Regions from separate parts of the Homo sapiens genome. Here region 1 is linked to region 2. Evidence: fine-mapped expression QTL. Tissue or cell type: whole blood. Region 2 holds a variant in brackets; the other region holds the start of a gene. All regions are shown on one strand. Distances are from middle to middle.

Region 1 (8,101 bases), 160 kb before region 2:
ATCACCATCTCAAGGAAAAGGTGGGCAGCTCTGACCAGGAGAAGGTTCAGAGGCCTCACATCCAAAGCTGTTTCTCCCCACACCACTGTGTGCCAAGAGGAAAAGCCCAGCCCAGGATGAGGAGGAGCAAATCGCAGCCAGCCAGCCAGCTTTCTTCTTCCCACCCAGGACTCCCCACCAGATGTGGCTGGTTGACAGGACCACAGCTGCTTCCTGTCATGCCATATCCTGGGGCTTCCTGATGGACAGACTGTCTCGCTAGAATGCAGAAGTTACTTCTACCACAGTTTGCACAGTCATTTTTGGAGCCAGAGATGAGGTTTAAGACTTTCAAGCAGCTATTAATACAGGGTAGAACTATCTTGCCCTCTGCTAACACTGGAGCAAAGCTCTCTGCATTTTTAGACAACTGACTTCCTCTCTGTCAGACAGCAGCAGACTTTTTATTTCTGATTCTGAGAGGACAAAAAAACACACATAAAAAATGGAAAATCATCACATACAACATACACCATAAGGCTACAAGATCCTACTAAAACCCAAACCCCAGTATTATACAGCAGTTTTGTAATTAAAGTCTGTTACCAGAAGACATTGGCAGAAAAAAAAAATGCAAATCTTCTTTCTTTACTCAATAGAGATGACTGTTTGCCTTACATAAGAGACAAGGTCCTTGCAAACGCTCTGTCAAGAAACATTAAGCTACGAGAGGAATGTTCAGAATTCCCTGATGTTCTAAGGAACAAGCTATCAGAATTTGCCCTGAGGGCTCCTGTTGGCTAAGACACCTTGAGACCAAGAAAGAAGCAAAACATTTTCACTCTCCTGACAGCGTATAATTATTTAGTTCAAGTCTCCTTTGATTTTGCTCTGACCCTTGAAGCGATTCAAAGTGGGAAAACTCATGCTGTGAATGACAGGAAGGACTCCTTCAAGGACTTCTCTGACACCTGCAGGAAACTTAAAAGCTGCCAATGACCAAAATAAAGGACAAGCAGGGTGAGTTAATGTGCCTGGTGACATCCTGACAGAGCAGAATATCAGGGCTCATAATTCACCAGTCAGCACAAACAAGCTTCCCTAGAACGGGTTTTGAGCAGACGTGAAACAAGAGGCATAGGAGCTCTGGAGGTAACAGTTCAGCCCCTCATGGTGGAAAAAGATCATCCCTGTGCTCTCAGCTGAAAGGCAGAAAGGTGTGGGCTTTAAGTAGGAAGACTGTCCTGTGGCTCATGCCTGTAATCATAGCACTTTGAGAGGCTGGGGCCAGAGGATTGCTTGAGACCAGGATTTCGAGACCAGCTTGGGCATCACAGCGAGACCCCTTCTCTACAAAAATTTTTTTTAAAAGGAGTCAGGCCCAGTGGCACATTCTTGTAGTCCCAGCTACTCAGGAGACTGAGGTGGGATTCAAATAATCATTTGAATCCTGGAGGTCAAGGCTGCCATGACCTCCACTGTGCTACAGCCTGGGCGACAGAGTGAGACCCTGCCTTAAAAAAGGAAGAAAGAGGGCTGGGCGCAGTGGTTCATGCCTGTAATCCCAGCACTTTGGGAGGCCGAGGCAGGTGGATCACCTGAGGTCGGGAGTTCGAGACCAGCCTGACCAACGTGGAGAAACCCCGTCTCTACTAAAAATACAAAATTAGCCGGTCGTGGTGGTGCATGCCTGTAATCCTAGCTACTCAGGAGGCTGAGGAAGGAGAATTGCTTGAACCCAGGAGGCTGAGGTTGCAGTGAGCCGAGATCGCGCCACTGCACTCCAGCCTGGGCAACAAGAGCAAAACTCTGTCTCAAAAAAAAGAGGCCAGGTGTGGTGGCTCACCCCTGTAATCCCAGCACTTTGGGAGGCTAAGGTGGGTGGATCACTTCAGGCCAGGAGTTTGAGACCAGTCTGGCCAATAAGGTGAAACCCCGTCTCTACTAAAAATACAAAAATTAGCCGGGTGTGGTGGTGCACACCTGTAATCCCAGTTTCTCGGGAGGCTGAAGCACGAGAATCACTTGAACCCAGGAGGCTGAGGCTGCAGTGAGCCGAGATCGCGCTACTGCACTCCAGCCTGGGCGACAGAGCAAGAATTGTCTCAAAAAACAAAACAAAACAAAACAAAAAAAAAGGAAAAGAAAGAAAGCAGGAAGATTGTTTCTTCCTTGATTGCTGTTCAAAAGGTCAGGCCAGGCGTGGTGGCTCACACCTGTAATCCCAGCACTTTGGAAGGCCGAGGCGGATGGATCACCTGAGGTCAGGAGTTTGAGACCAGCCTGGCCAACACGGTGAAACCCCGTCTCTACTAAAAGTATGAAAATTAGCTGGGTGTGGTGGCATACGCCTGTAGTCCCAGCTACTCAGGAGGCTGAAGCAGGAGAATTGCTTGAACTCGGGAGGCAGAGGTTGCAGTGAGCGGAAATCGTGCCAATGCACTCCAGCCTGGGCGACAAAGCGAGACTCCGTCTCAAAAAAAAAAAAAAAAGTCAGGCCAGCTCACACGTCAGTGCATCTCAACTATGTTGCCACCACACACAGTTCCATCAGACAAACGTTCCCTGTGGGTCCAGAATTTTTCACAGTCCCCCGCACCTCTCCTCTCTCCCTAACCCGGGCTCTCCTATCTGGTCAAAACCCACTCCAAACTAGACCCATGGCCAAAATGTGGAATTCTTATCAAGGCCATTTTTCAACTTGGGCTACCTTCCCGCCCTCTCCCATCTTTCTTTCCCTGACAAATCTCAGGGGCTCTCCTGTACTTTATACACTAGTTTGGCTGGTGGTGGAGCGGTGGCAGGTGTCCTGGGCTTTTCCCACATTTTTCCCCTCCACCAGAGGCTTCACCACCTCCTCATATGTTGCTGTCACCCCCTCTTCTAAAGTGACTCAAGACAGGTGTCTATCCAAGAATGAGGGAATGCGATAGCCACATTTCGCTTCTCCCTGACGCTAGGAGACTTCCGGAAGGGTCCGACCGTACCTGCTCCAGTCCCCTTCCCTAGCACAGCCCAGCCTCCGGGTGCTAGAAGACCCCACTGTCTCCAACACTTCAGCGCCCCGCCTCCTCTGCAGTTCCACCTGCTGCTAGTCGCGCCCCTCACGCGTTACGATAGGCCAGACCTCAAAGCCCGCTCTCCCATTGGGCAGATGACCCGTCCCTCCTACGCCACGTCTCCCGGCTCTAGCGAGAGGCCCGGGCGGCGGCCGTGGGCCCTAGGGAAATCTGAGAGCTGGATGGCGGGAGAGGGGCTCTACCTGGAAGGGGTTTACATCCACTGGGTCCGCGAAGGGGTTGGTGTCGAAAGCCGACATGGTGATCGGGGGCCAGCGGGCGAACTCCGCGAACGCTGCTGCCTCCGGGCACCCAGACCCAGCGGCGCTTCGTGTAGACCCTCCACTTCCGGGAGCGAGGCAGCGGTTCTGGCGCAGGCGCGATGCCCTCCCCCGAGGGCGTGGCCCTATGACGGCACCGGGGTCGCTCCGCCCCCCCCCCCCCCCCCCCCGCCCAGCCCACAATAGTGCGGTGGGTGGGCATTCGGCTTCCGTCCACATCTTCGCTCTGCTGGGGATTCAGGGGTCTTGGCTGCGCGGAGCGTCTACGGAGCCAGAGGCGTGGCCGGAGTCCTTCCCAACTGCCTATCAATCTGACACCTTCCAATTTTATGTTTCTAAAGCAAACTCTCAAAAGTGGGACAGGAAACAGCCCCTTCACTTCTCTGTAGACCAAGTTTGGGAAGAAGTCCAAACTGATCCCTGGGCAAAGGACAGGGGTGACAGGTGAGGCCAGAGGCCTTGGGAGAACTAGGAAAGCGCTTCTTCTGCAGAACGTGCTCGGGGAAAGAGAAGTGCCAGGACCATCCAGCAGTCCTCCACCCGAGCTGAGCCTGCTTCTTCTAGGGCTGCTCGCCCTCTGATGTCGTTTCATCGTTTTAGGGACGAGGGTTCCTGGGCCCATCAGCTTTGGGACCTGAGTTGGGACTTGAACCTGGACATCAAACATTTATGAAGTGACTCACGGAATTCAGCAACACAGCCTCAATCATGGGGGAGGTGGCTGCTTCACTCTCCACAGCTCCGCTTTCCCCCGCCCCCGCCCCCCACAGGGTCTCACTGTCGCCCAGGCTGGAGTGCAGTGGTGCAATCATGGCTCACTGCAGCCTCGAGCTCCTGGGCTCAAGCAATCCTCCCACCTCAGCCTCCTGAGTAGCTGGGACTACAGCTGGTCACCACCATACCCAGCTAATTTATGGATTTTTTGTAGAGATGGGGATCTCACTATATTGCCCAGGCTCGTCTCAAACACCTGGGCTGAAGTGATCCTCCCGCCTTGGCTTCCTAAAATGCTAGGATTATACTCATGAACCACTGTCTGGCCAAATCCACCTTATTTATTTGGATCTGTCTGGTATTATTCATCTCTGCTGTCACCGAATCCCAGCCACTGTCATTTTTACCCTGAACTAATACAGTGCTGTTAATTGGTCTATTGTTCTTCATGTTGTAATCAAAGATATGTTTAAAGGGGGCAAAATTATCACAGAACTTTGTTAAAATTTTTCAATTAATTTCCATAAAGGGCTGGGTGCGTGGCTTATGCCTGTAATCCCAGTACTTTGGGAGGCAGAGGTAGGAGGATCACTTGAAGCCAGGAGTTCGAGACCAGCCTAGGCAACATACCAGGACCCTGGCTCTACAAAAAAAAAAAAAAAAAAAAAAAAATATATATATATATATATATATATATATATATACATATACATATCTCACACACACACGTAATTAGCTAGGCATGGTGGCCTGTGCCTGTACTCCCAGCTACTTGGGAGGCTGAGGCAGGAGGACTGTTTGAGCTCAGGAGGTCAAAGCTGCAGTGAGCCATCTTTGCACCACTACACTCCAGCTGAGTGACAGAGTGAGACCCTGTCTCAGTTAAAAAAAAAAAAAAAAAAATCAGGCCAGGCAAGGTGGCTCATGCCTGTAGTCGCAGCACTTTGGGAAGCCAAGGCAGGCAGATCACCTGAGGTCAAGAGTTCGAGACCAGCCTGGCCAATATGGTGAAACCTCATCTCTACTAAAAATACAAAATTAGCTGGGTGTGGTGGTGCACACCTGTAATCCCAGCTACTTGGGAGGCTGAGGCAGGAGAATCGTTTGAACCTGGGAGGCGGAGGTTGCAGTGAGCTAAGATTGCAACATTGCACTCCAGCCTGGGCAAAAAGAGTGAAACTCTGTCTCAAAAAAAAAAAAAAAAAATCATAAAGGCCCAAATTCTTAGTTTGTCTTCAAGGTCCTAAAGGATCTGCCCCTACGTTTCTCCCCTTCTGACCCCTTCTAGCCCCCAACCCCCACCCACTGTTCCAGCCATGCAAGTTCTTTTCAGTTGCTCAAACCTTCCTTGTGCCCTCCTGTCTCAGGGCCTTTACACATGTGTTCCTTCTACCTGGTATGCACTTAACCCATGCCCCACTATCATCCTCTGGTTAACCTCTCCTTACCCTTTAAATGCAAGTTCAGATGCCTTTCTTCAGGAGTAGCTTCCCTTCACTCTCTTGGTTACATCATCACCTCATACCCAACATAAGCTCTCCTATTGCCCTGTACTTTTCCTTCACAATACCCATTGCAGATTGTAATTAATACTAGTATAGGTGGTTCTTTATGCCTGTATCCTCCGCTAGACTGAAAGCTCCATGAGGGTAGGGCTGAGGTCTGTTTTGCTCACTGTTGTGTTTCTGTCACTAACATAGTATAAAGCACATGATACACATTTATTAATTTATTTTTTGTGGGTTTGGGGTTTTTTTTTTTTCCAGACAAAGTCTCACTCTGTCACCCAGGGTGGAGTACAGTGGCATGATCTCAGCTCAGTGCAATCTCCGCCTTCCAGGTCCAAGAGATTCTGCTGCTTTAGCCTCCCAAGTAGCTGGGATTACAGGCACTCACCACCACACCCAGTTAATTTTTTTTTTTTTTTTTTTGTAATTTTAATAGAGACTGGGTTTCACCATCTTGGCCAGGCTGGTCTTGAACTCCTGATTTCAAATGATCTGCTCGCCTCGGCCTCCCAAAGTGCTGGGATTACAGGCGTGAGCCACTGTGCCCAGCCCACATGCATCATACACATTTAGTAACTATTTTACTGTTTCCCTGCATCCATTTATTTTGTTTGTTTATTTAGAAACAGGGTGTTACTTTGTTGCCCAAGCTGGTGTTGAACTCCTGGCTTCAATTGATCCTGCCACTTCCGCCTCCCAAAGTACTGGGCCTACAGGTACACACCACTGCGCCTGGTCATCTGTTTCTTTCACCTTCCTCTCCCATCTAAATCCTGACTATCCTTTAGGGTTTAGCTCAGCTTTACTTCGGGAAATATCTGCACACAAGTGGGAGGATGGGGAAGGATCCATTTTGTATCCCCTTAGAAATTGCCTGTCCCCAAGCCTCTATGGCCACCCCTCAAGGGCAGCAGACAGATCTTTGCTGTCTGCTCTCTGCAGCCTCAGAGGAGAACAGTCCACACCCCACAAGGCAGTCCTGCCTGCTCTGGGTCTGCTGCAGCCAAGTACAATGCTGGGCTGGTGAAGAAAGAATGAAACTTAATTACAACCAATGTGGTGGCTGCCCATCTATCTGTCTAATTCCCTACAAGAGAGACATCATTCATTTATTCTACAAGAGAGGAGGTATAGAGAATGCAGCTCTTTGCTTTTAAACCAGTTATTTCACCTCTCCAAGACCCATTTTTCTCATCTTGATCTTGAAACCACCTTTGCAAAAATTATAACTGAGGAAATTATGACAGTGGGAGAGATTAGACCTAACCTACTCCATCTTGCTTCTGACCTTTAAGTGGTCCTTGTTCATTCCTGGGTGTAGGCTGAACTAACCTTGGGAAGGAATTTATAGTTTAACTCTGAAACAAAATTGATTATAGCCCTTTTCCAAAAAAAAAAAAAAAAAAAAATCCCTTCTTGCCTGGGGACCAGTCTGCCTTTCTGGACTAATAAATTAGCTACAAGATTAGAAACTATGGTTTAGGGACCATGCAGCCTTCAGCTGTGAGTCTGAACCTCCCCAGATTGCTCCTGAGAATAACATCACTATTGTAAAACCTAAGATCAGTGCTTGAGATATTTTGCAGACCTTGCACTTGATGGATCTGCTGACACCACCTCCAACAGTAATGTAGCTCAGACAGTTCTGCCATCCCACTCAGGAACAGAAGACAGCAAGAAAAACTCACTTCGACCCCCTATGATTCCATCTCCAACCCGACCAATCAGCACTCCCTACTTGCCTAGCCCCTACCAGCCAAATTATCTTTTTTTTTCTCTCTTTTTTTCTTTTTGAGACGGAGTCTTGCTCTGTCACCAGGCTAGAGTGCTGTGGCACAATCTCGGGTCACTGCAACCTCCAACTCCCCGGTTCAAGGGATTCTCCTGCCTCTGCCTCCCAAGTAGCTGGGATTACAGGCATGCGACACCATGCCCGGCTAATTTTTGTATTTTTAGTAGAGATGGGGTTTCACTATGTTGGCCAGGATGGTCTCGATCTCCTGACCTCGTGATCTGCCCGCCTCGGCCTCCCAAAGTGCTGGGATTACAGGCATGAGCCACCACACCCGGCCAAATTATCTTTAAAAACTCTGATCCCAGAGGCTGGGCGCAGTGGCTCACACCTGTAATCCCAGCACTTTCGGAGGCCAAGGCAGGTGGATCATAAGGTCAGGAGTTCAAGACCAGCCCGGCCAAGATGGTGAAGCCTCATCTCTACTAAAAAATACAAAAAAAATTGCTGAGCATGGTGGCAGTCGCCTGTAATCCCAGCTACTCGGGAGGCTGAGGCAGATAATTGCTTGAACCCGGGAGGTGGAGGTTGCAGTGAGCTGAGATCGTGCCATTGCACTCCAGCACAGGAGACAGAGCAAGACTCCATCTAAAATAAATAAATAAATAGGCCGGGCGCGGTGGCTCACGCCTGTAATCCCAGCACTTTGAGAGGCCTAGGCGGGCAGATTATGAGGTCAGGAATTCAAGACCAGCCTGGCTAACATAGTGAAACCCTGTCTATATACTAAAAATACAAAAAATAAGCTGGGCATGGTGGCGGGGCGCC
Region 2 (8,101 bases):
GTTGGTCTGTCTTATCCCCCTTGGTCTTTGCGTGGCTGGGCCCTGCTAGGCTGGCTGCCCTCTCTGCTCCTCTCTCGCCTTTTCACATTCTGTGCAAAGCCTTCCCTGTCTGCCCCAGCCCAGCCCCTGTGGTTTTGGCCCCTTCTTTTAAACTTATTTGACATAGAACTATAGGTTGCCTTAGACACTGCTGGTGTTACTGGCCCCTAGTTTTTGGTGGGGTCTTGTGAAGTTGCTGGGCCCCAGGCCTGGCTTTTCCCTCTTGTTATCAGCTGAGCACCCAAGGTGCAGTGGCCGTATCTGGCATGTCCAGCAGGGGGCGGTGCTTACTCACAGATGACCACGTGGTCACATCAGCTGGGGCTGGGCTGGGAAGTGTTTCACTTTTTTACTTTCCACCAACTTCCACCCAGAAAGTCACCCCATCACCCCACCCCCAGGGCTGGGATAAGCCATGAAGCTGCCAGCCAGGGATGACAGCCAGGCCAGAGTGGGGGAGGGAGGAGAGTCTCGTGGCACTCTGACACTGGGTGCTGCACTTTTAGGGCAGTGCTGCTTAGGCCCAGCCACCCGCTGTGTACCCAGAAGCATTGGTAGGAGCTGCCCAGCTAGAGCCGTGAGGGTGGGAGGCCTCTGCCACCACCCCCTGGGGAGGGAGGGAGCCATGCAGTTCCCTTTTCCCATAGCCCCAGGGCAAGTGAGTTTCCGGACTAGGGGTGGATAGGGGCGGGGAGTCCTATCCCAGGAAACAGATGGGCAGCCTCAGAGCGGAGGGAAATGGCAACCCTACCGCTTCCTCCCATCCCACGCAGCCAGCGTTTGGTGGGAGGGGGGTTGTGAGGAAAGGGTTGCCTGGAGCAGGGAGGTGCTCCAGCCCACCCCAGGGCCTTTTAGCCTGGGCCCCATGGGATGGCAGGCCATGTCTGGAACAGGACTTGGCTTCCCCTCTCTGGTTGGAGTTGATGCCAAAAGTGAGGCAGCCAGAGGGCACTGAACTGGGAGGGAGGGCTCCCCGACTCAGCCTCTTGGAGCTTGCCTTTCCCATTTGAAAATAGGGCTGATTCCTGCTGCCCATCCCCCAGACTCTTGTCAGGCTCCCTGAGATGTTGGCTGGGGTGGGAGGGGTCACAGATGAAAATGGTCCTGTGCCAGTGACTCAGCACAGAGCCTGGCATGTTGAAGCACTCGGTTGTGTGTGTTTCCTGGCCATCACCCTGTCCTTTCCCCTTGTTCATGTCCTTTGGGCCAGCCACATGGTGTGGGGCAACCCCACTGGGAAGAGCCATGGAAGCCACAGTTCACCTGCTCTTGTGGAGGGCCCATGCCTTTCATCTGCAGGGAGACAGCTCTCCAAGCCTGGCCTTGCTTATTAGGGCCCTCGTGAGGTGTTGGGATCCAAAGGTAATCCCTGGATTGCCTTGTGTTGGCCCCAGTGGTGGCGTCTATCCCTGCACACTCCCCTTCACTCCCTGATGGCCCTGATCTCCACATTGCCTCCTGCTGGATCTCCTGCAGGAGCATCATTGTCCCTTGGAGCAGTCACTTTCAGCTCTTCACCTGCTGAGTCGTGGGTTCAGGTGCTCAAGGCTTTCCGGAACTTCCTTAGGTACATCCAGATTTTGTCTAGCACATGAACAGCTGGGGTGTGGGCTGCAGGGAGCTGGGGGATTCTACAGATCTGGCCCATCACTGTTCCTGATTGACCAGTATGTCCAGACATCCCGGGAAAGCCGCTAATGTCAAGGTAGCCAAATCAGGGAGACTGTGAGGGGTGGTGGAGAGACATGGATTAGCCACAAGCCACACACACCAGCAGTCAGGGAGAGTAGTCACTAGCAGAGATGACCTTGAGTATGTTGGGGCAGGTGGGCAACCGTGTCACAAGAGAGGCAGCTGAGCACATTTCTGACGCTGGGACCCTGGGCAAGTCCGTTCTTTTTGGCCATAATTTTCTTATCCACACAGTGAAGGAGGGGCAGGTTCTCAAATGATCCATCTCCAGGGCCTCTTCTGGCACTGGTGTTAGAAGATTCTAGATGTGAGGGCAAAAAGGACTAGGACCCAAAGGCAGCCTGAGAGAAGGTCCTGGGGCTCAGGAGCTTCAGGATGCCGGGGGTTTTGTAGTTCCGTAGTTGTCATGTAATTGAGTGGCAGTAAAATCCGGGTTGTCAGCTCAGGCAGTTTCTTCCCTGGGGTTGGCAGCCTGGCCCATGCAGGGGAGCAAAAATGGCTTTCCTCCATCTTGCTAGGCTGCTTGGCTGGGCTATGAGTTCAACTGACTTATAAACAAAATTAACAGGGCCGGGCGCGGTGGCTCACTTTGGGAGGCTGAGGCGGGCGGATCACTTGAGGCCAGTTCGAGACCACCCTAGCCAACATGGTAAAACCCCAGCTCTACTAAAAATACAAAAATTACCCGGTTGTGGTGGGCGCCTATAATCCCAGTTACTCAGGAGGCGGAGGCAGGAGAATCGCTTGAACCCAGAAGGCAGAGGTTGCAGTGAGCTGAGATCATGCCACTGCACTCCAGTCTGGGTAACAGAGCAAGACTCCATCTCAAAACAATAACAACAAAAAACAAGATCAACAGGAGAAAACCATATTTAGTTACATATCTGCACATGGGTGTACCACAAAATATGAGATTCCCAGAAGGGTGAGATGGCTGAAGCCTGTATAGCAGCCTGAGCTACAGAAGGAAATAGGGGCTTGGGGCTTCTGGGGGTGGTGGCGACACAAGTTATGGGAGGGTGAGGGGAGGAATTATACGGTCTTGTTAGGCAGATAAAAACCTCTCAGATAATAAAAGATGCCTCAGCAGATTGTCAATAAGTCAGTCTTCCTTTCTCAGGGAGGGGGACTCAGGACAAGGGGAATCCCTCTTTAGGCAGATAAGAGAAGTTCAGAGAAAGTTCCTCCCTGCATTTGTTTTTCCCCCAGTGCCTTCAGGTTTGAAATAATCAGCATACCAAAGCCGCATATTATGGGGTGGCATTTCCTGAACTCCTTCATCCACACCCTTCAAACTTGGGAGGAGAAGACAGACATCGCCCTAGCTTTTGCCAGGGCAGGTGTCAGCAGAATTCAGAGCCAAAAGGGGATTTCTAAAGATAGAGAAAACCCCCAACTCAAGGAGTCAGCAGGCCTCGGGCTCAGAGAAGGATACATTTCTAGGGTGTCTGTCAGGACATCCAGGTCTGTCGAGGGTGAGGAAAAGAAGGCTCTGCTCATATGCAGTGTGGAGTAAATTCTGACTTTCTGGAGGACCACTTGACAATATTGAGAGAAATTAAAACATCTTCATAGTCCTTGATTTACCCACAGGATTAAACTCTGTGGGGTGTATTTACAAAGTGAAAGGATGTCCATTATAGCATTATTTATAATTTCAAAGCAAAACTGGAAGCAAACAAAATATCCAGCAGTAGAGAGCTGTGGTGCCCTTATGATTTATGGGACAATCTCTCAGTGGATTACTTGGCAATGATTCAGAAAAATGGGGTGGCTCTCTCTGTGCTGAAGGGAGCAATCATCAAGATGGAAGCGGAATAAGCAGGGTGTAGGAGCTAGCAAACTGGACCCCCCCCCCCAAGGCCAAATTCGGCTCTGCCTGTTTTTGTATAGCCTACAGCTAAGAATGATTTTTACATTTTAATTTTTATTATTTATTTTTGAGACAGGGTCTTGTTCTGTTGCTCAGGCTGGAGTGCAGTGGTGTGATCACTGCTCACTGTAGCCTTGACCTCCCAGGCTCAAGCAGTCCTCCCACCTCAGCCTCCCAAATAGTTGGGACTGCAGGCGTGCCATCACACTCTGCTAATTTTTTTGCATTCTTTTTGTAGATACAGGATTTTGCTATGTTGCCCAGGCTGGTCTCAAACTCCTGGGCTCAAGTGATCTGTCTGCCTCCACCTCCCAAAGTGCTGGGATTACAAGCATGTGCCACTGTGCCTGGCCTGATTTTTACATTTTTAAATGATTAAGTCAAAAGAAAAATAGTATTTTATGACTCGGAAAAAAAGTGATATGAAATTCAGATTTCATGTCCAAGACAATTTATTGGAACACAGCCATACCCATTCATTTACGTATTGCCTATGGCTGCATTCGTGCTACTACAGAGTTAAATCATTACGACAAAGCCTAAAATATCATCTGGCCCTTTATAGAGAAGGTTTGCCGACCCCTGGTATGCAGCCTGATTCCTTCTGTGTGTTCTTATACTGAGTTACTGCACACAGTTTTTTCCTCTGGAGGTGGTTACCCTTGTGAAGGGGGACCAGTGGAGGAAGGGAAACTTGCATTTTTCATTTTTGTATCATTCTGTTCAGTTTTAATTTGTAACCTATGTGTATATTTGTGTGTGTGTGTTTTTTTGTTTGTTTGTTTGTTTTAAGTCAGTGGGGCTTTTGGTGGGAATATTGGGGAACATTCTTGATAAGTTTGTGCTTTTTTTTTTT[A/T]AAGTGCTCACTGAGGAAAGAGCAGAAGACATAAGGCCTGGTTTGAGGATTTCTCTTTTTTTCTGGGTGGGGGCCACCTGCCCGCTCTGTGTCCTGATGTGGAAACTCTGAGACCTTTATTTGTGCCTCTGCCTGCTTGGCTGGCCCCTTCCTCCTCTGGCCTGCAGCCCTGTCACCTGCTCCTCTAGGGACAGAGCTCTGTCGGCCTCTGGGCAGAGGGTCCCGCACCCCAGGGTCCTTCCCTGATTGCCCAGAACAACGTTCCTGTGCAGAGCCTCCCTAGACCACCTCCCTGGTTTCCTTCTTGAGAATTTTCTGAAGTTGGGGAAGCACACAGAAGGGTTGGCATGAGGAGCTGACACAACCAGAACACCAGCTCCCCCAGGGGCAGATGAGAGCACGACTGTTTCCTGCAGAGCCAGGTGGGAAAGGTCAGGGTCACAGAAGGGCTGGGGTGGTACGGTGAGCTAGATGGAGCCCTACCATGTGGTCTAAATGGCCCATGCATGGGTCATAAGGGGAAACCAGGCACAGAGGAAGAGGGTCTCGCCCACGGCCTTCCAGGGAGTGAGTGAGTTAGCAGAACTGGGGGCTTGAGGCCAGGTTTCCTGGGTCCTATCAGTGAGTGAATTGAAGAGCTCAGACCTGGAGCTCATTCTCTGCTCAAGCTCACCAATGCTTGAGGATGGTGGAATTTGTGGATTCCTATCTTGGTCTGCCTTGCAGTTAGGGGTTACCTGTACCCCACCTATCTGTTAGACTGAGCCCTAGGAGAGGCCAGAGCTTGGATCTTATCAGCCCTGCCCCCACCATATAAGAGGCTTAGTAAATGTTTGCCGAGTAGAGGCATCATCATGAGCCATGGAACCCACTGAGCCAACCGGAACTCCCTTGGGGGTTTTGTTAAGGAGGCCACCTCCTTCACAGCTCCCGCGCCTCATGTGCCAACCGCACTGGGCCCCAAGAATCCTTTGTCCTAGAATGTACCCACCAACTCCCCTGCTCAGGTTAGTGTCAGCTTCTTAGCTGGCCGCTAGGACCTGGGCACAGATCTGGAGCATGCCATCGTCAACACTGGTAGACCCAATGTCAGAGTCCTCTGCTGTGCGTCCTGGCCCAGAGGACTGGGCCACCAAAGCCCTGGGTTCCTTGTCTTGTCACAGATTAAGTGCGGGGCTACCACTTCCTCTTTAGAATCCTCCTTGGTCTCCAGTGGAGGCATCATCACGCCCTACTAGAAACGCCTGCTCTCCAGCCACTCAGCTGCTAGTTCCAGTTGGGCTCTTCTCCTTTTCTTGTATATGCCAGAGCTGTGCTATCTGATATATTTAAATTTTCTTGTATATTCCAGAGCTGTGCTATCCGATAAATGTAAATTTGAATGTGGCAGCCGCTTGCCACATTCAAATTTAAATTTAAATTAATTAGAATTTAATAAAAAATTCAGTTCTTCAGTCACAGCAGTCACACCTCAGATGCTCAGTGGCCACATGTGGCCAGTGCTGCCACACCCTACGGCACAGGTAGGGCCGTTCCCATCATTGCAGAGATGGAAATGCTCTTCACGGATAATGCTGTAGAGTTGTGGTTCTCAACGGGGGTGATTTTCCCTCCCAGGGGACATTGGATAATGTCCAGAGACATTTTTGGTTGTCCTAACTTAGGGATGGTGGTGCTACTGGCTCTTGGTTCTAGTGGGTAGAGGCCAGGAATGGGCTTGGCGGTGGAGACTCAGGCCATGGGATTTGTCTCATCCTGTGGCTGCGAAGTGCCTCTCCACGAGTTCCTTTGATAATCTGCCCCAGACGTAGCCTGGCCACACTAGGGGCCTGAAGTAGAAACGGGAGGTATCACTCTAAATCCTCATTCCATTTCTCCTGACCAGACCCAAATCAGGATTCCTGATGTCTCTTCAGCAAAGAAAAGGAAACTAGACTTGCCAACTGGTTTCGGGAAGGAATCTCTATACATGCTAGATAAAATGCAGGCAGCTTATGTAATAGGGTCTGTCCAAGCCTCAGTCACATACACAAAGAGATTTAGCTTAAAACTATTAGCTGTAAAAACTTTTCTCAGGTAGGCTGAGCGTGGTGGTTCACACCTGTAATCCCAGCACTTTGGGAGGCTGAGGTGGGCAGATCACCTGAGGCCAGGACTTTGAAACCAGCCTGGCCAACATGGTGAAACACTCTTTCTACTAGAAATACAAAAATTAGCTGGGCGTGGTGGCGCACAACTGTAATCCCAGCTACTCTGGAGGCTGAGGCAGGAGAATCTCTGGAACCCAGGAGGCAGAGGTTGCAGTGAGCCGAGATAGTGTCATTGCACTCCAGCCTGCACAGAGCAAGACTGTGTCTCAAAAAAAAAAAAAAAAAAAAGGAAAAAAACTTTTTTCTAAGTGGTGTCAGCAGGGGACTAAGCCGGGAGCTGCCTTTCAGGAATTCTGTAGCATATGGGGGATTCTTTTTTAATGCCCAGCGCTGCTTCTACCAGGACCCACAAAGGTGTAAGAGAAAGCCAAGGAAGGCTCCTGCCCTCAGGGAGTTTCTGCCCTGCCAGGGCTCCTTGGCATTTGCTGGGAAAAGGTCAAGGTAAATGAGTAAACGGTCAGAATTATTTAGTATCATAGAAGATAACACATGGTTTTATTTATTTATTTATTTATTTTAATGTGTACAGGGCCCAGCCCTTGGCTCCCAGGACCTTTTGGTGGAGTGAATGAAAATAAAAGAACAAAGCCCATAGGGCTGATGAATCAGATCAAGTGACATCCCTCTAAAACCAGAAAAACTAGTCTGGGCCTGCTAGACAGCACTGGGGTCAGTCAGGGTCACCTCCAAGGAGAGTCAGCTGCTTCAGTGGGTCAGAGGTGGGGCATCAGGAAAGACCCGCCCATCACATACTCTTCGCATTACTCCTTAGTGAAGACCTTGACCCCAGGAGGCTCCCTAACAATGTGACTGTAACCTGGGAGGGTGGCTAGAGAGTGGAGCCTCTGAGAGGTTAGGCAAAGAGCTTAGAGGGAAGATCTCAAGCAGGGTGAGAGGCTTAACAGGACCCCGGGTGGAGCTCCCCAGGGGACAGTGGGGGCCTAAAGGCTCTGAGACCTTGAGTGACGGTGTAGGGAAGGAAGAAAGGGTAGAGTTGAGAGGGAGGCGAGAACCCCTGAATCAAGGGCATTACCAATTTGGGGATGATTCTTTTTATTTTTTTATTGATGGATGATTGATTGATTATTTTTTTTTTGTAGAGAAGGAGTTTTGCCCTGTTGCCCAGGCTCATCCCAAACTTCTGAGCTCAAGCAATCCGCCCGTCTCTGCCTCCCAAAGTGCTGGGATGACAGGCATGAGCCACCATGCCTGGCGCCCAATTTGGGGATGATTCTGAAGGCCAGCACTAGGCAAGGTTCTCCGCTTTGCAAACTGGAAGATGGTTTTGGGAGCTGGGGAGAGTGGAGGACCTAGACCTTCAGGAAGTAGCTTTCCAAATTTCAGAATAGAGGCGATGAACCTGGGACATTCTTAAGTAGCAAATGGTTCAGGATGGTTGGGAAGCTCTTAGAAATGAAAGATGGTGGTCCCATGAGCAGAAGCAGGCAGTGTATTAGCAGAGATGTGGTCTCTGGCTACCTGAAGCCTTCT

What was found. PIP is the estimated chance that this variant, and not a neighbour inherited with it, causes the effect.
Region 1: it holds the start of SCAMP2, and the variant in region 2 is fine-mapped to the expression of SCAMP2 in whole blood (INTERVAL, PIP 0.96).

What each region holds. Positions count from the first base shown.
Region 1 is chr15:74,869,958-74,878,058 of GRCh38, forward strand. SCAMP2 (secretory carrier membrane protein 2) reads right to left here and starts at 3,408. Exons shown (of 9, transcript NM_005697.5): 1 at 3,242-3,408. The coding sequence starts at 3,298. RefSeq lists enhancers at 1-90, 606-1,591.
Region 2 is chr15:75,029,146-75,037,246 of GRCh38, forward strand. The region is part of intron 2 of PPCDC (phosphopantothenoylcysteine decarboxylase); the gene reads left to right. Among named protein-coding and RNA genes, the nearest start is that of PPCDC, 9.6 kb to the left of the region's middle. RefSeq lists enhancers at 33-222, 2,279-2,779, 7,280-7,780 and a silencer at 4,734-4,927. The variant A/T (reference allele first, on the strand shown) is at 4,461.